Linked DNA regions of Homo sapiens: region 2 is linked to region 1. The links come from fine-mapping of genetic effects on gene expression. A gene starts in region 1. The other region holds a variant in brackets. All regions are shown on one strand. Distances are from middle to middle. Region 1 holds the start of TNFRSF10B (TNF receptor superfamily member 10b). Region 2 overlaps TNFRSF10C (TNF receptor superfamily member 10c).

Region 1 (16,224 bases):
TGCAAGCTCCGCCTCCCAAGTTCACGCCATTCTCCTGCCTCAGCCTCCCCAGCAGCTGGAAATACAATTGCCCGCCACCAGCCTGGCTAATTTTTTGTATTTTTAGTAGAGATGGGGTTTCACCGTGTTAGCCAGGATGGTCTCGATCTCCTGACCTCGTGATCTGCCCTCCTCAGCCTCCCAAAGTGCTGGGATTACAGGCGTGAGCCACCGCAACCGGCTTATTTTATTTTATTTTATTTTCTTGAGACGGAGTCTCGCTCTGTTACCAGGCTGGAGTGCAGTAGCATGATCTCGGCTCACTGCAACCGCCGCCTCCAGGGTTCAAGTGATTCTCCTACCTCAGCCTCCCAAGTAGCTGGGACTACAGGCTTGTGCCACCACACCCAGCTAATTTTTTGTATTTTTAGTAGATGGGGTTTCACCATGTTGGCCAGGATAGTCTTGATCTCTTGACCTCGTGATCCACCCACCTCAGCCTTCTAAAGTGCTGGGATTACAGGCGTGAGTTACTGCACCCAACTGGATACTGACTTTTAATGTATACATATTTCCTGATCTATGTGCAAGTGCTATAGGGAATACAGTATACACTCAAGTGTTTGTATTCTATTTGAAGTTTTTTAAAAAATGAATTTATTGGCTGGGCTCGGTGGCTCATGCCTGTAATCCCAGCACTTTGGGAGGCTGAGGCGGGCAGATCACGAGGTCAGGAGATCCAGACCATCCTGGCTAACCTGATGAAACCCCGTCTCTACTAAAAATACAAAAAAAAAAAAAATGCCGGGCATGGTGGCGGGCGCCTGTAGTCCAGCTACTCAGGAGGGTGAGGCAGGAAAATGGCATGAACCCAGGAGGCGGAGCTTGCAGTGAGCCGAGATCGCGCCACTGCACTCCAGCCTGGGCGACAGAGTGAGACTCCATCTCAAACAAAAAAAAAAAAAAAGAATTTATTGAGGTATAATGAATATAAAACAAAGTGTACATTTTTAAAATGTGTAGTTTGGTAGATTGAGATGTATGTATACACTACGAAACTATCACCACAATAAGATAATGACATGTCTACCACCCCCCAGAATGTGTTCATTCTTCAGTGTAATCCTCTCTTCTGCTTTGCTCCTATGTCCCCAGCAATGATTCTTCTGCTTTTTGTCACAATAGATTAGATTAGTTGCATTTTAATAAGAAGTGGAATCAGACGGTATGCATTCTGCTTGGATTCCTTCACATGACATGATCATTTTGAAAACCATCCCTGTGGCCATGTGCAGTAATACTGCCTTTTCATGGCTGAGTTGTGTTGCTGAATTAATTGTGTGATATTAATGTAAAGTGTAAGAGACTCGCAACAAGATGTGTCCATTCATCACCACCCAGTATTCCTAAGCCTTAACTATGCATACTTTACGAACCTCACAGCAATGTTATCATCATTGATAATACATATTTTCAAGAAACTAAGAAGAAGTAATAATCCTTTACATTTTCCCCAACTTTATATTTCTGGTGACCTTCCTTTCTTCCTTAAGATCCAGGTTTCCATTTGGTGTCAGATCTCTTCTGCCTGAAGCATTTTGTGTCCTGCAGGTCTACTAGCAATGAAGTGTCCGTGGCGTCTCCAAAATCATATTCACATTGCTAATTCTTAAAGCCACTTTATGCCCATTTGCTCCTTCTTATTTGGTAATGATCTCAGCCAAATATCAGATTATGAAAACCAGAATCCACCTTGAACTTCTTTCCTCTTCTTACCAAACCTATTGCATCACCGGCCTGCATTATCATCATCATTTCCCTCAGATCCGCCTCAGCTGCCACTTGCCTCCTTCAGGATAATGCAACCTGACCCTCACCCTAACCACTAGGACCCATCCCAAATGCTGCCCAGGCCATGTCTGAGGTCACCCACCTAATCCACTCTGCATTGGGCAAACAATGATCTCTGAAGTGCTGATCTGATGGGCGATGTCTCCGGTGAAAACTTGACAATGGTCCTGGTGACTCAGGATGTGGGTGATCCTCTGCATGCTATTCAGATCCTCTGTTCTGTCCTCAGCCTGCCTGCCACACTCCCCACCTCTCACGTTTAACACACTCTATGAGCAGGCTGAGAACGCAACATCTGCATTAGTGCAGCTTCCTAGAATCCACGTTACTCATTCATTCACTCATGGAAGAAATATAGGCGTCTGGCGACCACACATACAAGGAGCCGTGGAGTATCGGGAACACAGCATGGCCCTTCCTTTCCTTAGCACAGTTTCCATTCACAGGAGCTGAGGCACAGCCATCATTAACCCCAAAGTCCATGAACTTGTGAAGAGTCTGGAGGGGCTGCTCAGGCAGAGGTGACAAGTACCATAAGTGGCAGAGACATTAGTGGACATAGAGGGGAAAGTCCACACAGACAGAATCCCAGACAAATAGTAAGTCAAAGTAATGGGGGAGGGGAGTAAAAACAAGTGAGGTTGGGACGAGGCTGTGCAGGATGCGGGCCTCTGATTGAGGGAGAAGGGGTGTGTGGCCAGAGATGTGTGGCTGTGTCAGTCCATAGAATTTTGTCAGACTTGAACTTTTCCTGGTGTGTGTGAGTGAGTGTGTGTGTGTGAGAGAGAGAGAGAGAGAGAGAGCGCAGCATGCCAGAGGCATGGTGGAGAGAGAAGGAGAATGAGAAGGGAGGAGGGTGGAGGCTTGCTCAGGTCCTCTCCTGCAAGGCTCTGCAGATCCAGGCTTCTCCCCAGATGAGTCATTAACTGGGGGTTTCCTGGTCATGCACATCCCCCACTGGTGATGCAATAGGTAGGTGGTTGCAAAGCCCAGTGTGGCCCTCACCCTCCCTCAAGCCAAGCAGGCTCCTCTTTCCTCTGCAGGGCACACACACCCTTAAAGCTGCCAGTTGACCCTGAACTGAGCAATCACTCAGAAGACCAGACATCAACTCAGACTTGTTCTCTCAGTCTGTGGCCTGGGATCTACTTCTGAGTTTTGTGGAGTTTCTTTTTATCCCTGTACAAGACCAGGGCCAGCCACTAAAGAGCTGCAGGAGTCCGGGGAAGTCACTTCCCTTCCTCTCTAAACTTCACGTTTCTCTCTCCTGAAAACAGGAAGTGGCATTAAATGAGCTCTCAGAGGCCTCCCAGCAGTGACCCAGAATGAGGTGAGCAGCAAATTCTCCCTTGGGAAAGGCAGCAGAAGCCAGTTGGGCAGTGGGTGCTGCTCCCCTGAGGTTGGCTCACCCATCCCCCAGCCCCCCACCCCAGGAATAGCTGTGTGACCTTCAGCAAGTTACTGAGTTGATCTGTGTCTCACGTAAGAGAACCAACTTAATTATAGTTCCGGCACAGTCAGGTTGCTGTCAGAATTAAATGTGTGAATTTGTATGAAGGGATCTGAATAGAGCCTGACTTATGGGAAGTGCTGTATTTCAGCGCACACTCTGAATAGCATAATCATTACTAAAAGAATTTTTTTTTTGAGACGGGGTCTCACTCTGTCTCCCAGGCTGGAGTGCGGTGGTGTGAACACGGCTCACTACAGCCTCAACCTTCCAGGCTCAGGTGATCCTCCCACATCAGCCTCCTAAACAGCTGGGACTACAGGTGCAGGCCACTGCACCAGGCTAATTTTCTGTGGGTTTTGTTGTTGTTATTGTTTGTAGAGATGGGTTTTGCTATGTTTCCCAGGCTGGTCTTGAACTCCTGGGCTCAAGTGATCTGCCCGCCTTGGCAGGACTACAGGTGTGAGCCATTGCACCCTGCCTACCCTGGCCCATTGACTATTATGAATTAAAGGCTATTGAAAAACAGCAGGTGCATCGCTGGCAAAAGTATACTTGTGTAACGAACTTGCACATTCTGCGCATGTATTTCAGAACTTAAAGTAAAAATAAAATAATAAAGTAGGCCGGGCGTGGTGGCTCACGCCTGTAATCCCAGCACTTTGGGAGGCCGAGGCAGGTGGATCACAAGGTCAGGAGATAGAGACCAGCCTGGCTAACATGGTGAAACCCTGTCTCTACTAAAAATACAAAATTTAGCCGGGTGTGGTGGCGGGCACCTGTAGTCCCAGCTACTTGGGAGGCTGAGGCAGGAGAATGGCGTGAACCCAGGAGGCGGAGCTTGCAGTGAGCTAAGATCATGCCACTGCACTCCAGACTGGGCGACACAGCAAGACTCTGTCTCCAAAAAATTAAAAAAAAAATAATAAAGTATTCAGGGATAAAGAGAGAAAAATAAATTTAGATTGTATACATATGTAAAATATATTTTAAAAGGTAAGCTTGTCTTTTTTATTCCTTAAAGGAGCAGATATTAAAAAAAAAAGAATAGAATAACTCATCTTTTTAGCCTCCACATATTTACTTGCTTCTTCCCAAGTTACTTGGTCTAATTCAGTATATAAGTAACTGACTCTCACTGCTTTTTCTGTGCCATGTAAAACTTGCATTGTATTAATTTGTGTGCTTTTCTCCTGTGGACCTGTCTTATGTCAACTTAATTCTCAGGCCCAGCCAAAAAAAAAATACCCTTAAAGGGAGCTTAGCTTGCCTCCATGACCCTCAATGGTGGCTGTAATCAAACCACATCTTCCAGGCAAACAATACCACATCCTATGGCCTTGCAATGGCATGGCCTCCCTCCAGCACAGCCTCTCTGGAGGAGGGGGAGGCAAGGGTGGTGAGATCTCAGGCCTCCCTCATGCTACCTCCTATTAGTTATATGACCCCTGGTGTCACCTCTCCCACCACACTGTAGGCTCCAGGGAGTAGGATTCACATGGGGTTCATTTGTCCTCCCTGCCTTCAGCAGACTCCAGGCACAGGTGTTCCCAGAGTAAAGGGCTCACTGTCTGCTTCCTGGGTGAATCATTCTCCCCGCAAACCCATGAGGTGAGTGCAGTCGTGGCTTCAGCTCACCGCCTGACAGGCTCCAGGCTGTAGCACAGGGAGGGCCCTGTGGACTCTGCTGAGGAACCATACGAGCTCCCAGAGGCCAAGTGCAGGACAGAGAATAGAGAAGCAGCTGCTCAGAGAACTCTAGCCCTGTAGAGGTGCAAATATGGCTGCTATTATACAGAAGGTGAGGCCAAAAATGCTGGAGACACTGCTCCTGAATCTCAGTTTTGCCACTTGTAAAACAGGGAAAACAACCTACTCTCATGTCCCCAGGTTGTTAGGAAAATCCACTACATGAAGATGTGCAGTCTCTGGCTGGGAGCAGGACACCAGCTGCCCAACAGCACAGGCTCAGGGCATGGCACTGTCTCCACTGTCCCCATCCCCAACCTGGAAGCTAGAGCCTCGCTGCCCTGCCACTTCTGGATGCAGGACAGAGAACCGGAACTGGGACTGTGGTCTCTCAGTAGAGGCTGTGAACAGCCATCTGTGGCCACACGGATTGAGACCTTTCCTGCTCACTCTTCAAACTGGGGCACCGGCTGGGTGCCCAACAGAAAGACAATTGGAAGAGTGGCAGGTAAACCAGGCTGTGGCCCTGCAGTGCCATCACCGTCCTCATTTGAATTCTGGCTCGTCTGTTCCTCTACGGCCCCTCCGCATGGCGCTCCACCCCAGTCTTCAGAAATTTCTGCCTCAAGCTCAGGGAGCTGGTACTGAGGTACAGGTAGGAGAAGGTGCAGCCTCTGCTGAGTGGAGGACATGTGCCCTGGGGATCCAGAGTCTAGAGTGACTGACACCAGCCCTGCAATTTGTCCTCCTAGACCTGTTAACAGAGCCTGCAGAAGTTTACACAGGGCTGCTGAAGATTTTTATCCCCTCATTTTACAGGAAGGAGCTGGGGCCATACCAGAGTCAGAGCTGGACCGGGAGCACGGCAGGGCCCAGCCATCCACAGCCTCCAATTTCAGTACTCTCTAACAACCTGAGAGCCTGAGCCTTCGGATCTTCTTGATTCCTACTTTGATAAAGAGAGGGATGGGGTTGGAAGGACCTGGCATAGAGATTGGACCAGTCCGGCATTGACAGAGCCAGGACCTGGGGTCCGGAACTGAGCTCAGCTCCAGGCTCATCTGAAGTCACCCTGACAGCCTGAGGATGGAGACCTTATTTCCATTAACAGGCATGGCGGTTGGCAGGGACTGGCCCCAGCTGAGCACGGTTTTCCAAGTACACAGCTGGGAATTAAGTCTTCTCTGCCGCCCTCCCCTGTAGTCTTGCCTGGATCCCCCCAGTCATCTACTCCCAGTACCAAAAACTCCTGTATTCTTGAAAATCCGTAGTACTGAGAGGTGACAGCTTGCTGGCAGTCCTCAACAGCCCTCGCTCGCTCTCGGCGCCTCCTCTGCCTGGGCTCCCACTTTGGCGGCACTTGAGGAGCCCTTCAGCCCACCGCTGCACTGTGGGAGCCCTTTTCTGGGCTGGCCAAGGCTGGAGCCCGCTCCCTCAGCTTGCACGGAGGTGTGGAGGGAGAGGCGCGAGCGGGAACCGGGGCTGCGCGCGCGGCACTTGCGGGCCAGCTGGAGTTCCGGGTGGGCGTGGGCTCGGCGGGCCCTGCACTCGGAGCAGCCGGCCGGCCCTGCCGGCCCCGGGCAATGAGGGGTTTAGCACCCGGGCCAGCGGCTGCGGAGGGTGTACTGGGTCCCCCAGCAGTGCCGGCCCACTGGCGCTGCGCTTGATTTCTCGCCGGGCCTTAGCTGCCTTCCCGACGGGCAGGGCTCGGGACCGCCATGCCTGAGCCTCTCACCCCCTCCGTGGGCTCCTGTGCAGCCGGAGCCTCCCCGACGAGCACCTCCCCCTGCTCCAGGGCGCCCAGTCCCATCGACCACCCAAGGGCTGAGGAGTGCGGGCGCACGGCGCGGGAGCACGGCGCGGGACTGGCAGGCAGCTCCACCTGCAACCCCGGTGCGGGATCCACTGGGTGACGACACCTGGGCTCCTGAGTCTGGTGGGGACGTGGAGAACCTTTATGTTTAGCTAAGGGATTGTAAATACACCAATTGGCACTGTGTATCTAGCTCAAGTTTTGTAAACACACCAATCAGCACCGTGTGTCTAGCTCAGGGTTTGTGAATGCACCAATTGACACTCTGTATCTAGCTAGTCTGGTGGGGCCTTGGAGAACCTTTGTGTCCACACTCTGTATCTAGCTAATCTGGTGGGGAAGTGGAGAACATTTGTGTCTAGCTCAGGGATTGTAAACCACCAATCAGCGCCCTGTCAAAACAGACCACTCCGCTCTACCAATCAGCAGGGTGTGGGTGGGGCCAGATAAGAGAATAAAAGCAGGCTGCCAGAGCCAGCAGTGGTAACACTGTGGAAGCTTCCTTCTTTCCCTCTGCAATAAATCTTGCTACTGCTCACTCTTTGGGTCCACACTGCCTTTATGAGCTGTAACACTCACCTTGAAGGTCTGCAGCTTCACTCTTGAAGCCAGCGAGACCACGAGCCCACCAGGAGGAAAGAACAACTCCAGACCCACTGCCTTAAGAGCTGTAACACTCACTGGGAAGGTCTGCAGCTTCACTCCTGAGCCAGTGAGACCACGAACCCACCAGAAGGAAGAAACTCCGAACACATCCGAACATCAGAAGGAACAAACTCCAGACACGCCGCCTTTAAGAACTGTAACACTCACCGCGAGGGTCCGAGGCTTCATTCTTGAAGGCAGTGAGACCAAGAACCCACCAATTCCGGACACAGTACCATGAAGGAATGAAAATACATAACAATGTGATGTATCATGTTTTATTTCCTAGACTAGTGACAAATGAAAGCTAAGTGTAGCAAGGGTGCAGGGACACAGGCACATTTGTGGACTAGGTGTGAGTGTAAGCTGGGTTCGATGGTCTTTTGGCCAACATAGTGAACCCCTGTGTCTACTAAAAATACAAAAATTAGCCAGGCGTGGTGGTGCAGGCCTGTAGTCCCAGCTACATGGGAGGCTGAGGTGGGAGTATCGCTTGAACCTGGGAGACGGAAGTTGCAGTGAGCCGGGATCACACCACCGCTCACCAATCTGAGCCACAGAGAGACTGTCTCAAAAAATAAACCACAAGGAAGGGAGGTAGGGGGAGGGGGAGGGAGGGAGGAAAGAGAAAGAGAGAAAGGAAGGAAAGAGAAAGCAGGAAGGACGGAAAGAAGACGAAAGAACGAAAGAAAACGAAAGAAAAAAGGAAAGAAGAGAGAAGGAGAGAACAGAAGGGGCAGGTGCCCCTGGGAAGGGGAGAAGATCAAGACGCGCCTGGAAAGCGGACTCTGAACCTCAAGACCCTGTTCACAGCCAAGCGCGCGACCCCGGGAGGCGTCAACTCCCCAAGTGCCTCCCTCAACTCATTTCCCCCAAGTTTCGGTGCCTGTCCTGGCGCGGACAGGACCCAGAAACAAACCACAGCCCGGGGCGCAGCCGCCAGGGCGAAGGTTAGTTCCGGTCCCTTCCCCTCCCCTCCCCACTTGGACGCGCTTGCGGAGGATTGCGTTGACGAGACTCTTATTTATTGTCACCAACCTGTGGTGGAATTTGCAGTTGCACATTGGATCTGATTCGCCCCGCCCCGAATGACGCCTGCCCGGAGGCAGTGAAAGTACAGCCGCGCCGCCCCAAGTCAGCCTGGACACATAAATCAGCACGCGGCCGGAGAACCCCGCAATCTCTGCGCCCACAAAATACACCGACGATGCCCGATCTACTTTAAGGGCTGAAACCCACGGGCCTGAGAGACTATAAGAGCGTTCCCTACCGCCATGGAACAACGGGGACAGAACGCCCCGGCCGCTTCGGGGGCCCGGAAAAGGCACGGCCCAGGACCCAGGGAGGCGCGGGGAGCCAGGCCTGGGCCCCGGGTCCCCAAGACCCTTGTGCTCGTTGTCGCCGCGGTCCTGCTGTTGGTGAGTCCCCGCCGCGGTCCCTGGCTGGGGAAGAGCGTGCCTGGCGCCTGGAGAGGGCAGGGAGAGAGGGGGACACGGCGGGGGTGCGTGGCCCGGGTCGCCTGCGGCCGGGCATGTCCGGGCAAGACGCACCAGTCGTCGGAGTCGGGGGAAGAGATGGGTCCCCGGGTTGGGCAGGAGCGACCTGGGCCGCCAGGGAACAGAGCGCGCGCTCCACTTGGTGTAAATTCCCGAATCCAGTGGGGGAGGGCGACAAGGAGGGAATTCCCGAGTAAGCTGCGTGAAGCCACGGAGAGGTCGTCGGACTTTGATTTTGTTTTCTTTCCTTACTTTCTGTTTCTTTCTCTTTTTCTCTTTCTTCCTTTCTTTCCCTCCCTTCCTTCCTCGCTCAGTTCCTGCCTTAATTTCTTTTTCTTTTGCGCCTTCGAATGAATTCCTAAAGGCGCTCATTGCAGATCGCTTTGAACCTGCGGCCGGCGAAGAACTCCCCTGTGGTCGCTGCGGCCCAGTGGTTCCGTTCCGTGCGCGGGAGTCGTCGCGGGCGCAGCTGGAGAGGCCCCTTCCCCTCCTTAGCGGCTGCGCCCCTACGCGTGCGGGGCCGCTCATCGCCAATGCCATTGTTTGGGGTTCCTTGGGAAAACGAGATTTAGGAGAAGGGAGTTGTGGCACTTGGGGCCTGACCTGCTTGATAATAGCAGCTGCATTTTGGCCTGGGAAGAGCCTTTCTTGCCACCTCTTGGCAAGTATCCGTGATAATGGGGAAGGGACAAAGAGTCGGCTTTGTAGGGAACAGCATGGTGTGCTCAGCGCCTGGAACTGCGCTTGGGGCCAGGAGAGGTTCTGAATCATCACATTTTACAGAGGAAGAGACCGCAGCTCAGAGTGGGGAAGTGTGTGGGCCTAGACCTAACTCAAGACTGTACAGAGGGGCTGGAAGGGAGAGGAGGAACAGTGAAAGGAAGGTCAAGAGAATGCTGGTGTTGACCTAGAAGAATGTCAGTGTGAAGCATTGGAGTTTCATGGGATATTGTTACACACCTCATGTTTTCACTGTTTCCGCCCCACACCACAGTATGTCCTTGGTCTCACCTCTGAGTGGAGGGAGGACCTAACTGTCCTAGTGAGGAGAGTGTACAGGGGCCTCTGCCTCCCCCTCCTGCTGTGGTTTCTGTGGGCCTAGGTCCCCAGGGCATCTTGCCTCTCTTTGGGTGGTGGATCTTTGGTCTCTGGCTGCTTTTAAAGATTTTTCTTAGCACTGGTTTGCAGTGATTTGGTTTGTTTGCTCTGTTGTGGGGTTTTTTTTTTATCTCTATAAAGAATTTTTTGGATTTTTGGCTTTAGACTTTCATGTTCTTTCTACTTGGAAGATTTTTCTGTAAAGAAAGCCACAACTGGGTTGTGTTGAATTTCTTGGATTTGGGGTTTTAGAGTTTATGTTCTCCTTGGAGACTTTTCTGTAAAGAAAGCCACAACAGCCGGGTCTGGTAGCTCATGCCTGTAATCCCAGCACTTTGGGAGGCCGAGGCGGGCAGATCACATGAGGTCAGGGATTCGAGACCAGCCTGACCAACATGGTGAAACCCCGTCTCTACTAAAAATACAAAATTAGCTGGGTGTGGTGGTGGGCACCTGCAATCCCAGCTACTTGGGAGGTTGAGGCAGGAGAATCACTTGAACCTGGGAGGCAGAAGTTGCAGTGAGCAGAGATGGCGCCACTGCACTCCAGCCTGGGAGACAAGAGCAAGACTCCAACTCAAAAAAAAGAAAGAAAGAAAGCCACAACAGAGTTATGTTGAATTTCTTGGATTTGGGGTTTTAGAGTTTATGTTTTTGTTTGTTTGTTTGTTTGTTTTGAGATGGAGTCTTGCCTCTGTCGCCTAGGCTGGAGTGCAGTGGTGGGATCTCAGCTCACTGCAACCTCTGCCTCCTGGGTTCACGCCATTCTCCTGCCTCAGCATCCCGTGTAGCTGGGACTACAGGCATGCACCACCACGCCCAGCGAACTTTTTGTATTTTTAGTAGAGACGGGGTTTCACCGTGTTAGCCAGGATGGTCTGGCTCGTGATCTGCCCGCCTCAGCCTCCCAAAATGCTGGGATTACAGGGGTGAGCCACCACGCCCAGCCGAGTTTATGTTCTACTTGGAAGATTTTCAGCCATTATTTCTTCAAATACTCTGTCTCTTCTGGTGACTGAGATCTTATTATATTTACGTTAGAATGTTAGATTTTGTATCAGAGCTAACTTAGTATCTGTTCTTTTTTTTCCCCCATCATTTTCTATGTTTCACTTTGGACATTTCCCTGTGAGGGCTCTTCAAGTTCATTGATCTGCTTCTGCAGAATCTAACCTGCTGTTAATCTCATCTACTGTATATCAGATATATATTTTTTGAACTTTAGAAGTTCTCTTTTGGCATTTTTAATATCTTCCATCTATTTCCTGGTCATCTTTGTGTTTTTCTTTTTTGAGACAGGGTCTTACTCTGTCACCCAGGCTGGAGTGCAGTGGCACAGTCAGAGTTCACTGCAGCCTCAACCTCTTGGGCTCAAGTGATCCTCCCACCTCGGCCTCCCAAGTAGCTGGGACCACAGGCACTTGCAACCACACCTGGCTAATTTTTGTATTTTTAGTAGAGACGGGGTTTCACCATGTTGCCCAGGCTGGTCTCAAACTCCTGCGCTCAAGGAATCCTCCCACCTTGTCCTCCCAAAGTATTGGGATTACAGGCCTGAGCCACCGTGCGCAACCTATGATTTTGGTGGTGGTGTTTTTTGTTTTTCTGTTTTTTAAATATTCTTGAGTATATTTGTAAGCTTTAGATGACCTGTTTTAAGTTATTTAATCTATCAACACCATTATATCTGTTATTACGGCCACTGTTTCTGTTGATTACATTTTTTTTCCTGCCCATAGGGACTTTTTTTTTCATGCATAGTAATTTCTTATTGCTTGACATTGTGAATTTTGCTTTCTTGGGTACCGAACATCACTGTGTTCTTTCAAAGTCTATTGGGCATTATTCTGGTCACAGAAAACTGAGGATCAGTTTGCTCCTCTGATACTAGCTTTTATCTACATATAACTATATACCTTGTGTTCAGTTGCCTTATTCAGGGGCTCATTTAGTTAACTACTAAAGTTATAGTGGTTGACTTCTGATGGTAACTCGCCAGCACCCTGGCATGCGTTCTGTCCACTGTGGGAAGGGGAACATGCAGATCTCCCAGCCCTGAGTGGTCCACAATCTAGTCTCTCCTTCCCTGGGTGGCTTCTTCTCAGGCACCTAGAGTCAGTCTCAGCAGACACTGGACATGTCTTCTGCAAGGATCCAGAGTCCTCCAGGCAGCTGCTTCTCCCAGTCTCTGCCCTGCACTTGGCCTCTGGGAGTTCCTGCCTGTGGTTCTCAACAGAGACTACAGAGCTCTACAGGGTCCTCTGCCCCTGCTGTAGCTGGAGGCTGTCCTTACGCAGTGAGCTGAGGCCACAGCTAGTCTCACTGCATGTGCTTGGCGGCGGGGACAGGAGTGATTCATTCATCAGGTAGAGGAGGAACCCTTTACTCTGGGAAAATCTGTGCCTGGGTTGGGGAAGGACAAATGAGCCCTGTGTGAATACTGACTACTCCCTGGAGCCCACAGTCTGGTGGAGCAGGTGACAGCAGGGACCTAAATAACTATCAGGAAGCATGAGGTCCCACCACTGTCACCTCCCCCACCTCCAGAGTGGCTGTGCTGGCTCCAGAGATGTCATCCCTCCATATTTGACTGACAGAGGGAGGCTGTGCAGTCCCAAGGCTCCAGGTCATGGTAGTTTGGCCAGGATAATATGGTTTGCTTAAAATCAACATTGAGGGTAATGATCGTACTAATCAGAGCATGTGTTTAAAGTTCTGTGTTTTAAGCACTTTCCATACATATTAACACTTTCAGTTCACACAACAACCTATGCAGGAACTGTGATTATCCTGGGCAGTTTTAAGGATGTGGGTGACTCAGAGAGGAAAGAAGAGGTTACTCGGGTTAATTTTTGACGAGAAATATTAGCAGGTTTTATGCTCAAACTTGGTGTAAAGCAAGGAGCCTGAATCACAGGTGGGTGAGTCACAAGACAGGGAAACCCCGCCAATGGCTCATGTCCGGGAGGAGGCAGGGTCCCTAGAATTCAATGGGACAAGAACTGAAATAAGCCAAACCCCTGACCTCCCTTCTTCTTGTTTTCCTTCTCTCTCTTAACCATGCCCATGGACACCCCCATGAGCCCATTTCTGTGGCCCAACACAGCTGTGCATCTCTGGCCACACGCCCATTCTCCCTCAATCAGAGAGGCCCACGGACGGCACAGCCTCGTCCTGCACAGCAGAAAGAGTGAATGGTGATGAATGGATCTATATTATTTCAACTCTCCTACATTTTGTAATCATATTACAATATTAATTCAGCAGTACCTCTCTTGTTTTTACTCCCCTCCCCCATTACACTGGATTCCTGTCTGTCTGGGATTCTGTCTGTGTGCACTCTTTCCTCTATGTCCACTACTGTCCCTGCCACCGATGGCATTTGTCACCTCTGCCTGGGCAGCCCCTCCAGACTCTTTGCAAGTTCATGGACTTTGGGGTTAATGATGGCTGTGCCTCAGCTCCTGTGAATGGAAACTGTGCTAAGGAAAGGAAGGGCCGTGCCATGTTCCCGATACTCCACGGCTCCTTGCATATGCGGTCGCCAGGCGCCTACATGCCTTCCATGAATGAATGAATGAGTAACGTGGATTCTAGGAAGCTGCACTAACCCAGACGTTGTGTCCTCAGCCTGCTCATAGAGTGTGTTAAACGTGAGAGGTGGGGAGTGTGGCAGGCAGGCTGAGGACAGAACAGAGGATCTGAATAGAGTACGGAGGATCACCCAAGTCCAGAGTCACCAAGGCCATTGTCAAGTTTTCCCCGGGGACATCCCTCATCAGATCCACCCATTAAAGATCATTGTTCACCCAGTGGAGAGTGGACTAGGTGGGTGCACTCAGGTGTGGCCTGGACAGCATTCGGGATGGGTCCTAGTGGTTAGGGTGAGGGTCAGGTTGCATTATCGTGAAGGAGGCAAGTGGCAGCTGAGGCAGATCTGAGGGAAATGATGATAACGCAGGCCGGTGATGCAATGGGTTTGGTAAGAAGAGGAAAGAGGTTTGTGGTGGATTCTAGTGTTTCTAATCTGAGACTTGGGTGAGGTCATTACCAAATAAGAAAGAGTAAATGGGCATAAATGGCTTTAAGAATTAGGAACCTGAATGTGCTATTGGAGACAGTATGGGCACGTCATTGCTCATAGACCTGCAGTACACAAAATGCTAAAAGATTTCAATCTGAATAGAGATGAAATGAAATGGAAACATGGATTTTTTTTTTTTTTTTTGAGACAGTTTCACTGTTGCTGCCCAGGCTGGAGTGCAATGGCGCAATCTCGGCTCACTGCAACCTCTGCCTCCTGGGTTCAAGCGATTCTCCTGCCTCAGCCTCCTGAACAGCTGGGATTACAGGCGCTTGCCACCACACCCAGCTAATTTTTGTATTTTTAGTAGAGACCGGGTTTCACCATGTTGGCCAGGCCAGTCTCAAACTACTGACCTCAGGAGATCCACCGCCTTGGCCTCCCAAAGTGCTGGGATTACAGGCATGAGCCACCTTGCCTGGCTGGGAACATGGATCTTAAGGAAAGAAGGAAGATCATCAGGAATAGAAATATGAATGCACATATAAAGAATGATTATTTCCTCTTAATTTCTTGAAAATATTCACTATCAAGTAATATAACACTTTGTAGGGTTTGTAACATATGAACATGCCTGAGACAACTATAGCAGAAAGAATGAGTAGTGGAGATGAATCAATCTGTATTATTTCAAGTCTCCTACATTTTATAATATTACCATATTAATTCTGCCATACAACTCAGTAATGAAAAGGAATGGAGTACTGATGCATATGAAAATATGACCGAATTTCAAAATAATTATGCTGAGTTAAAGAAACCAGACAGAAAAGCATATATAGTATCTGATTCCATCTATGATATTTATAGCCAGAAATGGTTTAATTAAAAAAGAAGAAGGATCTTAAATCAACGAGCTAAGTTTACAAATGTAGGAATTAGAAAAAGAATGAACCAAACCTAGAGTTAGCATTATAAAGGAAATAATTATTAGAAGAGAAATAAATAAAACAGAGAATAGAAAAACAGTAGAGGCCGGATGTGATGGCTCACGCCTATAATCCCAGCACTTTGCGAGGCCAAGACAGGAGGATTGCTTGAAGCCAGGAGTTTGAGACCAGCCTGGATATGGCAAAACCCTGTCTCTACAAAAAATATAAAAAGCAGCCTGGCCCGGGGGAGCACACCTGTGATCCCAGTTACTCGGGAGGCTGAGGTGGGAGGATCACTTGAGCCCCGGAGATGTAGGTTGCAGTGAGCCAAGATCACATCACTGCACTCCAGCCTGGGCAACAGAGTGAGACTCTGTCTCAAAGAAAGAAAGAAAAAGAAAAAAGAAAAACCATAGAGAAAATCCACAAAACCAACATTGATTCTTCAATACTATTAATTAAACTGACAGAATTCACTAGTGAATTCTAACAAGCTTTTAATGAAGAGCTAATACCACTACTTCTCAAACTCTTTCAAAAACTTGAAGAGAAGGGAACCTTTCTTGACTCTTTCTGTAAGGCCAGCATTGCTCTGATACCCAAGCAGATAAAGATATTACAAGAAAATAAAGCTATATCCCAGTATCCCTAACTGATGCAAAAATCTTCAACAAAATACTATCAGAGAGAATTCAACAGTACCTTAGATGGATTATACACCATGACCAAGTTGGATTTATTTCCGGAATGCAAGAATGTTTGAACAAATGAAAACTGAACAATGTAATACATTGCATTAATAGAATGAAGGGGGAAAAAGACACATGATCATCTGAGTTGATACAGGGAAAGCCTCTGATAAAATTCAAAGCCCTTTCATGATGAAAACACCCAGCAAACTAAGAATAGAAGAAAACTTCCACAACATCATAAAAGCCATGTAAGAAAACCCCACAGCTAACATCATACTCAGTGTTGAAAGACGGAAAGCTTTTCCTTTAAGATTAAGAACAACATAAGGATATCTACCCACCTTTGCCACTCAGCATAGTACTGGAAGTTCTAGCCAAAACAGGCAAGAAAAAGAAATAAGAGCATCTGGACTGTAAAGGAAAAAGTAAAATAATCTGTGTTTTCAGATGATATGATCTTACTGGTAAAAAATCCAAAAGATTTCACAAAAAATTAAACTGCCAAAAATAAAATAATATTAAATTTTTAAAATTTTGAAATTTATTGTTGTTCAG
Region 2 (10,250 bases), 39 kb before region 1:
ATTTTTCTGCCTCAGCCTCCCGAGTAGCTGGGATTATAGGCGACGCACCACCACGCCCAGATTTGTATGGAACTACAAAAGACCTCAAATAGCCAAAGTGATCTTAAGCAAAACAAACAAAAGAACAAAGATGGAGGCATCGTACTACCTGATTTTAAAACGTGTTACAAAAGTATAGTAATCAAAACTGAATGGTAATGGCACAACAATGGTAAATAAACTGATGGAACAAAATAGTGAACCCAGGTATAAATCAATGCATTTACAGTTGATTGATTGTGAGAAAGATACCAAGAACACAAAATGGGGAAAGGACAGCTCTTCAATAAATGGTGTTGAGAAAAGTAGGTATTGACATGCAGAAGAATGAAATAAGACCTTTATCTCACATCATATGTAAAAATTAATTCAAAATGGACTAAAGATTAAAACATAAGATCTGAAATGGTAAAACTACCACAAGAATACATAGGGGAAAATTTTCATGATGTTGGTCTGGGCAATGGTTTCTTGACTATGACCCCAAAAGCACAGGCAACAAAAGGAAAAACAGACAAATGAGGTTACATTACACTAAAAAGGTTCTGCATGACAAAGGAAACAATGAACAGAGTGAAGAGACAACCTACAGAATGAGGGTCAATATTCAAAAGATCCAAGATTTTGGTTAAAATCCAAAATACACAGGAACTCAAACATCTCAATAGCACACAATCAAATAATCCAAGTAAAATGGATACATGGGCGTGGGACCTGAATAGACACTTCTCAAAAGGAGACATAGAAGTGGCCAAAAAGTATATGAAAAAAATGCTCAGCATCACTAACCATCAAGTGCCAAATATCACTTCACACCTGTAAGAATGGCTATTACCAAAAAGACAAAAGGTAACAAGTGTTGATGATGGGGAGAAAAAGGAATGCTGGTACACTGTTGGTGGGAATGGAAATTAGTACAGCCATTATGGAAAACAGTATGGAGGTTCCTCAAAAAACAAAAAATAGAACAACTATATGATCTAGCAATCCCACTATTGGGTATACATCCAAAGGAAATGACGTCAGTATATTGAAGAGATATCTTCCCTCCCATATGCATTGGAGCATTATTTACAATGGTCAAGACATGGAATCAACCTACGTGTCCATGGATGGATGAAAAGTTAAAGAAAATGTGACACATAGATACAATGGAATACTATTCAGCCTTTAAAAAGAAGGGAGTTCTGTCATTTGTGTCAGCATGGATGAAGCTGGAGGATACTATGCTAAGTGAAATAAGCCAGGCACAGAAAGGCAAACACCTCATGATCTCACATATGTGGAATCAGAAAAAGTTGGTCTCATAGAGGTGGAGAGCAGAATGGTGATTACCAGGGCTTGAGTTGGATGGTGGGATGGGGAGATGTTAGTCAAAGGATACAAAATTTCAGTTAGACAGGGAGAATAAATTCAAGAGATGTATTGTGTGACATGGCGACTACAGTTATTAAAACAATGTGTTGTACAGTCCTGCCTTCTATCCACAGGGAATATATTCCATGGAACAAACTCTGCATATACTCAAGTCCCTGATATAAATTGGGATAGTATTGCATAAAACCCACGCACATATGCTTTAAATCATCTCTAGATTACTTGTAATACCTAATGCAATAGACATGCTATGTAAATAAGTGCTATACTGCATTGCTTTTTATCTGCTTTTATTGATGTATTATCATTTTTATTTCTTCCGCATATTTTTGATCTGTGGTTTGTTGCAACCATGGATACAGAACCCATAGATAAGGAAGGCTACAGAACCCACAGATAAAAAGGGCAAAGAGGGCTTATCCCAGGGCTCTGTATCCATACAGCTGAAAATTGCTGAGCAGATTTTTAAGTGTTCTTACCACGAATACATGATTAAGTATGTGAATTAGCTTGATTTAGCCATTCCACAATGCGTACATATTTCAAAACATCATGGTGTACATCATAAATACATACAATGTTTATCTGTCAATTAAAAATAAACTGATTTTTAAAAATAAGAGTGCACCTGCTGGACACTCCTCCCCCTTGAAGCTGTGCCTCTGTTGCTGTGGGGCCACTGTCTGCTGGGGAACTTCCTCCTGCCGGGCAGTGGTGGCAGAGTAAGCTAGGACCTGTGGGGACAAAGGAGTGATGGGTGTGAGTGACTTCCAGACCTCACCCCTCCCAGGCTCCATCTCACATTCCCTTCACCCCAAGTGACAAAACCCATCAGAGCTTGGACATTTTTTCCAGCTCCAAACTTTCATTCTTTCATACCTGTGTTTGTCCCTTGGCCTGTTAGGGCCAGCTATTTTCTATAAAAAAAAAAAAAAATACAGGCAAGCGCGATGGCTCAAGCTTGTAATCCCAGCAATGTGGAAGTCTGAGGCAGGTGGATCACAAGGTCAAGAGATCGAGACCATCCTGGCCAACACGGTGAAACCCTGTCTCTACTAAAAATACAAAAATTAGCTGGGTGTGGTGGCACACACCTGTAATCCCAGCTACTCAGGAGGCTGAGGCAGGAGAATAGCTTGAACCTGAGAGGCAGAGGTTGCAGTGAGCCAAGATCGCGCCATTGCACTCCAATGTGGTGACAGTGCGAGACTCCATCTCAAATAAAAAAAAAAAAGAAAAAATGAAAAGAAAAAGAAAAACACTTATGTATCCTTTTCTCATATTATAACATAAATTTACCCCAGATAATGGGAGCAAGAAGAGCTATTTTGTTTTTTTGATACAGAGTCTTGCTATGTTGCCCAGGCTGGAATGCAGTGGCTATTCACAGGTGTGATCATATCTTACTATAGGCTTGAACTCCTGGCCTGAAGTGATCCTCCTGCTTCAGTCTCCCAAGAAATGTGGATAAGAGGCACATGCCACCATGGTTGGAAAGAAAAGATTTTATAAGAATTTTAAAAAACCACACACATATGAGCCCTTCATGCAGAAATAGCATTTAATATATTTAGTTTCACCAAGTGTTTAATTGACCAATAGGTGAATTCTGTCTCTCACTCACACACACACAAATACACACAGACACACACTTAAACATACTCAGCTTTACAAATGAAGGTTATAATATATATAACCTTACAGAAAGTCAGGATATAGCATCAAACATTAAGTAATTAATTACTGCTTTACAAAGGACCTTGTCAAGCTGCTCCCACTAAATATCAAAGAGTGACAAAAAAGATGAAACAGCAATTCAGGGATTCTGGCCATGATCTCTATGTTATAAATGACAACTAGAAGACAACTGGAGAAATCGGAATAGAGTGCGGATAGATAGTGGTAATGTGTTGATGTTAATTTCCTTGTTTGTAGAAAGTACACACTAAAGAATTCAATAATAGCTTTCATCATGCCAACAGCCATTTTTTCAAATGTTTTTATTGTATAGTTTTTGTAACTTTTCTTTAAGTTGGGAGTGTTTTAAAGTAGGAAATTAATTTAAGCAAAACCAAAATGGTTACAATGAAAGCTGCTTATGTTGGGCTCAGTTCAACTGCCTGGATCTAAACAAGACAAAATGTAGCTTTCTTCCACATCAAAGCCTGACTAGCAGTTGGTGACAGTGAAGCTAACCCACTTTTCCCAAATCATTCTTTCCCGGGTTGGAGTCCCTCTAGGTTCAGGCGATGTCTGCGTCTCCTTTCTCTGCTCTCACACTCTTACTCCCTCTCATTTAATGAGGGGTTTATTAGTGTTTTTTAAAATCCTTTCAGAAGACCAACTTTTCATTTTGTCTTTTTTTTTTTTTTTTTTTTTTTTTTGGAGACAGGGTCTCCCTCTGTCCTCCATGTTGGAGCGCAGAGTGCAGTGGTGTAATCTCGGTTCACTACAACCTTTGCCTCCTCTGCCTCCCAGGCTCAAGTGGTCCTGCCACCTCAGTCCCCAAAGACAGGTGTGTGCCACAACGCCCATCTAATTTTCACATATTTTGTAGAGCTGGGGTTTCGCCATGTTGCCCAGAGTGGTTTAACTCCTGAGCTCAAGTGATCTGCCTGCCTGGGCCTCCCAAAGTACTGGGATTACAGGCGTAAGCCACCGCACACAGTTGGTTTTCTCAGTTCTTTCTGTGGTTTGTATTCTTTGATTTATGCTCCTTCCTGTTACTTTGTTTGGTTTAAATTTACACTTATATTTTATGATTGATTAATGTAGCTCCTCAGGCCATAATTTTCTTTTTCTTTTTCTTTTTTTTTTTTGAGATGGAGTCTCGCTGTCTCCCAGGCCGGAGTGCAGTGGCACAATCTCGGCTCACTGCAAGCTCCACCTCCCAGGTTCATGCTATTCTCCTGCCTCAGCCTCCCAAGTAACTGGGACTACAGGTGCCCGCCACCACGCCTGGCTAATTTTTTGTATTTTTAGTAGAGACAGGGTTTCACCGTGTTAGCCAGGATGGTCTCGATTTTCTGACCTCGTGATCCACCCTCCTCGGCCTCCCAAAGTGCTGGAATTACAGATGTGAGCCACCGTGCCCGGCCCATAATTTTCACGTTTTTTCTTTTTTTGACAGCTTTAGTGA[G/A]ACACAATTCACATAATTAATAATTATGATTATTCATATAATTCACCCATTTAAAGTCCACACTTCAGCAGTTTTTAATATACTCATAGCTATGCAATCATCACTATAATCAATTTTAGAATATTTTTATCACTCCAGAAAGGAACTACATACCCTTCAGCAGTAACTCCCCATCTCCCTAACCCCCAGTTTTTTAATACAAACATTGAAAGCTGTATATTTCACCCTGAGCACTGTTAGCTATTTCGCACCACTTTTGATGTGTTATATTGTCATTATTACTTACTTTGAAATATCTTACCTTCCCTTTTGATTTCCTGTCTGAACCACAGATTTTTAGAAGTGTGTTGTTCAATATCAAAATTTTAGAATTCTCTGTGGATATTGTTACTGATTTCCAGTTTAGTTTCATTAAGTTTAGAGATCATATTGTGTGTTTTATAGCCCAGAACCTGGTCTATCTTGGTGAAAGTATCATGAGCATAGAAAGGAATGAGTGTTCAGTGAATGTTCCACTCCTGCTCTTTAAATGTCAGTTAAATCAAGGTGGTTGATAGTGTGCAGATCGCTTGCCACTTTACTGGCATTTTCATCTAATCATGCTAGCAAGTGCAGAGAAACAGCTGAGTTAATCTCTTTTTAATTCTATTTTTGTGTCATGTGTTTTGAAGATGTATTACTAGGCATATACAATTTGTTGTTATTATACTCCTTGAAGAATTAACCCTTTTAACTACAAAGGTCCCTTTTCATCTCCCATAATATTCAATGTCCTAAAATTGTCACAGTAGGCAGCTAGTTAGGTATGAGCAGGACAGGAGAGGGGTCCCCGCTTCTGACACCAGCAGTGTTGGGCGACCATCAGGTAGTTGATAACTGTGTCTCTAAAGTAATAACTGGTTACAGCCGATGCCAGAAAAAAGCAGTTTCCTAATACATAGAAAACACTTGAAACTGATCAGCAGCTTCCCAATAAGATTTCAGGAGTGGGGAGAAGTAAGGCAAGATCCTGGAAGTAGGCCAACCTATAAAACCCCAACTCAGGCGGTCCGGCTGCGTACTGTTTCTCAAGTCACCTGCTTGGCCATCTTCCAAGTGTACTTTCCTTCTTTTCTTTCTGTTCCTTCCTTTCCTTCCTGTTCCTTCCTTTCCTTCCTGTTCTAAAGCTTTTTAATAAACTTTCACTCCTGCTCTGAAACTTGCCTCCATCTCTGCTTCTGCCTTATGCCCCTCAAACCAGTTCTTTCTTCTCAGGAGGCGAAGAGCTGAAGGTGCTGTGGACGCATACGGATTCGCCGCCTTCAACGTAGGGTAACTCGGATCTCATCCACCGCTAACAAAATCAACTTCATCTGATACTGAGATAGCCATGGCAGTTTTCTTGGCCTTACACTCTGCATGGTGTATCTTTTTCCATCTATTTACTTTCAACAGACAACATCTGTGTCTTCCTTTTAAGGCCCATCTCATATAGACAAGATATAGTTGAGTCTTGCTTTCTCAGCCCTTCCAAACATTTCTACCATTGAACTGTAGTGCTCAGTGGATTTACAGGGAGTGCAATAATTGATATAGTTGAAATAGACCTGTAAGTTTACCATTTAAGCTATGATTGTCTAGTCTAATTTTTTTACTCCTTTTCCCCCTGCACATTTTAATGTTAATTACCTTTTAGAATTCCATTTTAATTGGATAAACTGACTTTTTATGCATACCTATTTCCATGATCTATGTGCAAGTGCTATAGGGAATACAGTATACACTCAAGTGTTTACATTCTATTGAAGGTTTTTTAAAAATGGATTCATTGAGGTATAATGGGCATGAAACAAAGTGTACATTTTTGAAGCATGTAGTTTGGTAGATTGAGACGTGTGTATACATTGTGGAACTACCACCACGATAAGAAAATGACATGTCCACCACACCCCAGAATTTCTTCATTCTTCAATGTAATCCTCTCTTCCGCTTTGCTCCTATGTCCCCAGCAATAATTCTGCTTTTTGTCAGAATAGATTGGTCGAATTTTAATGAGAAATGGAATCAGATGGTAAGCATTCTGTGTGGATTCCTTCACACGACATAATTTTCTGTGTTTTTCTGTTTTTCTGTTTGTTTGGTTTTTTGTTGTTGTTGTTGTGACCGGGTTTTGCTATGTTGCCCTGGCTGGTCTTGAACTCCTGGGCTCAAGTGATCTGCCTGTCTTGGCAGGACTACAGGTGTGAGCCATCGCACCCTGCCCACCCTGGTCAATTGACTATTATGAATTAAAGGCTATTGAAAAACAACAGGTGCAAGAAGATCCTTTGACCTCTTTTGTGTTTCCTAAAAGCAGGAGATGAAAGTCCCCAGGGAAACATAGGACAATCTCCTTTTTTTTTTTTTCTGAAAGCTCTGCTTCCCAGGTTCTCACCATTCTCCTGCCTCAGCCTCTCCAGTAGCTGGGACTACAGGCACCCGCCACCACACTCCGCTAATTGTTTTGTATTTTCAGTAGAGACGGGGTTTCACTGTGTTAGCCAGGATGGTCTCGATCTCCTGACCTCGTGATCCACCTGCCTTGACCTCCCGAAGTGCTGGGATTACAGGCGTGAGCCACCGCACCCAGCTGACAATTTCCTTATTTTTAAGGATGAGAAGTCGAGGCCAAGAGGGTACTGTGCAGACCATGTTAGAATGGATCCACTCTCATCTTTTTAGCTCCTCACATAGTTACTTGCTTCTTCATGAGTTACTTGGTCTAATTCAGTAAATAAGTAACTGACTCTCACAGGTTCTTCCATGCCAGGTAAAACTTGAATTAAATAAATGTGTGTGCTTGTCTCCTGTGGACCTCTCTTAGGTGAATCAAATTCTCAGGCCCAGCTAAAAAAAAAAAAAAAAAAATCGGGTGGGGGGGCATCTAAAGGAGAGCTTCGCTCCCCTCCCTGACCCTCAATGGTGACTGTAATCAAACCACATCTTCCAGGCCAACAGTACCACATCCTATGGCCCTGCAACAGCATGGCCTCTCTCCAGCACAGCCTCTCTGGAGGAGGGGGAGGCAAGGGTAGTGAGATCTCAGGCCTCCTTCATGCTACCTCCTATTAGTTATATAATCCCTGGGTCACCTCTCCCACCACACTGCGGGCTCCAGGGAACAGGATTCACATGGGGTTCATTTGTCCTCCCAAACTCCGGCGGACTCCAGGCACAGGTGTTCTCAGAGTAAAGGGCTCACTGTTTACTTCCTGGATGAATCACTTTCCCCTCAAGCCTATGAAGTGCGCGCAGTTGTGGCCTCAGCTCAAGGCCGAAGGACAGGCTCCAAGAGCCCTGTGAACTCTGCTGAGGAACCATAAGAGCTCCCAGAGGCCAAGGGCAGGACAGAGATCAGAGAAGCAGCTGCTCAGAGAACTCTAGCCCTGAATCTCATTTTACCACTTGTAAAACAGGAAAAACAACCTACCTTCATCTCCCCGGGTTGTTAGGAAATCCACTACATGAAGATGTGCATTCTCTGGCTGGAAGCAGGATACCAGCTGCCCAACGGCAGAGGCTCGGGGCATGGCACTGTCCCCACTGTCCCCATCCCTGACCTAGAAGCTAGAGCCTCACTGCCCTGCCACTCCTGGATACACGACAGAGGACCAGAACTGGGACTGTGGCCTCTCAGTACAGCCTGGGTGAGTAGCCATCTGCAGCCACCTGGATGGAGACATTTCCTGCTCACTCTTCAAACTACAACCCGGGCCAGGCGCCTACCAGAAGGACAACTGGAAGCATGGCAGGTAAACCAGGCTGTGGCCCTGCAGTGCCATCGCTGTCCTCACTTGACGTCTGGCTCCTCTGTTCCTCCATGGCCCCTCCCCGTGGTGCTCCACCCTAGTCTTCAGAAGCTTCTGCCCCAAGCTCAGGGAGCAAGTACCAGGGTGCAGGTAGGAACAGGGGCAGCCTCTGCTGGATGGAGGACAGGTGCCTGGGGATCCAGTCCAGAGTGAGTGACACCAGCCCTGAGGATGTGATTTGTCCTCCCACACCTGGTAACACAGCCCTCTGAGGTTTACACAGGGCTGCTGAAGATTTTTACCTCCTCTTCACTTTACAGGCAGGAGCTGGGGCCACACCAGAGTCACAGAGCCAGAGGGGGAGCACGGCAGGGCCCAGCCATTCACAACCTTCAATCTCAGGAGTCCTTGACAGCCTGAGAGTCCGAGATTCTGAGCCGTTGGAACTTCTCAATTCCTACTTTGATAGAGAGAGGAATGGTGTGGAAGGACCTGGCGCACAGATTGGACCAGCCCAGCATTGACAGAGCCAGGACCTGGGGTCAGGAACTGAACTCAGCTCCAGGCTCATCTGAAGTCACCCTGACAGGCTGAGGATGGAGACCTTATCTCCATTCACAGGCATGGTGGGTGGCAGGGACTGGCCCCAACTGACCAGGGTTTTCCAAGTGCACAGCTCAGAATTCAGTCTTCCCTGCTGTCTCATCTGGATACCCTGGTCTACTCCCAGTACCAAAAAACTCCTATATCCTTGAAAATTCCTAATACCATGAGGAAACAAAAATACATAGCAATGTGATGTGTTATGTTTTACATCTTAGACTAGTAAAGAATGAAAGCTAAGTGTAGCAAAGGTGTAGGGACACAGGCACATTTGTGGACTAGGTGTGACTGTAAGCTGGGTTCAGTGGTTTTTTGGAGGAAAATTCGTGAACATTTAAAGAAACTTCTGAAGTCATTTATCCCACAGAAGGAGAAGTAGAATTCAACTTGTAAGGAGTTGCCCAATAAGCTGGTGTGCATGGATATGTGGACACACGATACATACAAGGGTATTTAGTACAATGCTGTTGGAATTAGCAAAGGCCGTCAGGATGGGATCTAACCAGCTGCCCCTAGGCGGCAACAGTGAATTAAAATGTGGCTTACCCATGCAGTAAAATACAATACCCTTGTTTAAAAGAAGATCAATCTGAATGTACTGCCATAAAACATCTAATGTGATTTGTGTTAGCTCCAAAATTTAACAAAGTGATTGTACATTTAAATGCATTTAATAAGGCAAGACTGATGGAGGGATTAAAGCCTCCTTTGGGACGCATAGAGTTCACATTCCCAAAACCGTGAAACTGATGTTGCTGGCCTTGTCTACACTGGTCATCCATGCATTCTCTCTTCAGGGCCACTGTCCTGACACAGCCATTCTTCTAGCTGCCTCAGGTAAGTCCACCCACTATAAACTATTTTAAAAGTCAGTTGTGTAATTTTTGAGAGGTGAAAATGTTACTGCTTTTCTGAATTTAGCATTAATTTGTAGAAAGACAACATGCAAACTCTCATGGTTTCTGTAACCTTGCTTTGGCCTTTTCTTTTTCTTTTTTCTTTTTTTTGTATTACATAAAGAATCTTAAAAAGGGCTGTTAGCAAAAACCTCAATCAATCTGAAAGAGACCTAGAAGTCTGCATATTTTATACATAATATGTCCTTGCACTCACACTACTACCAATCTCAGTTTCCAAAGCCAACTCACAACAACTTTACACCGTTTATGCTGAAGGAAGGGGCCAGCCCCGGTCCTGCCTATGGGATACAGAGGGGACACACGGGTGGTAGTGGAAGACATTAACCAAGGCAGCACCTTGGTTAACCGCTTCCTGCCACATTCCGGCTTCCTGCCACTTTCAGGACAGAGGAGGTGAAAGTTGCT

The links.
Region 2: its variant is fine-mapped to the expression of TNFRSF10B in whole blood (INTERVAL, PIP above 0.99).

The regions. Positions count from the first base shown.
Region 1 is chr8:23,061,372-23,077,595 of GRCh38, reverse strand. It overlaps TNFRSF10B (TNF receptor superfamily member 10b), which reads left to right and starts at 8,565. Exons shown (of 9, transcript NM_003842.5): 1 at 8,565-8,845. The coding sequence starts at 8,702. It also overlaps the pseudogene TNFRSF10B-AS1. RefSeq lists enhancers at 6,245-6,744, 7,066-7,360, 8,142-8,311, 8,332-8,381, 8,922-9,181 and 2 more, a cis regulatory region at 8,575-8,580 and promoters at 8,035-8,705, 7,473-11,186.
Region 2 is chr8:23,103,620-23,113,869 of GRCh38, reverse strand. TNFRSF10C (TNF receptor superfamily member 10c) reads right to left here. Exons shown (of 5, transcript NM_003841.5): 2 at 2,045-2,150. Among named protein-coding and RNA genes, the nearest start is that of TNFRSF10C, 5.8 kb to the right of the region's middle. RefSeq lists an enhancer at 10,075-10,250. The variant G/A (reference allele first, on the strand shown) is at 4,556.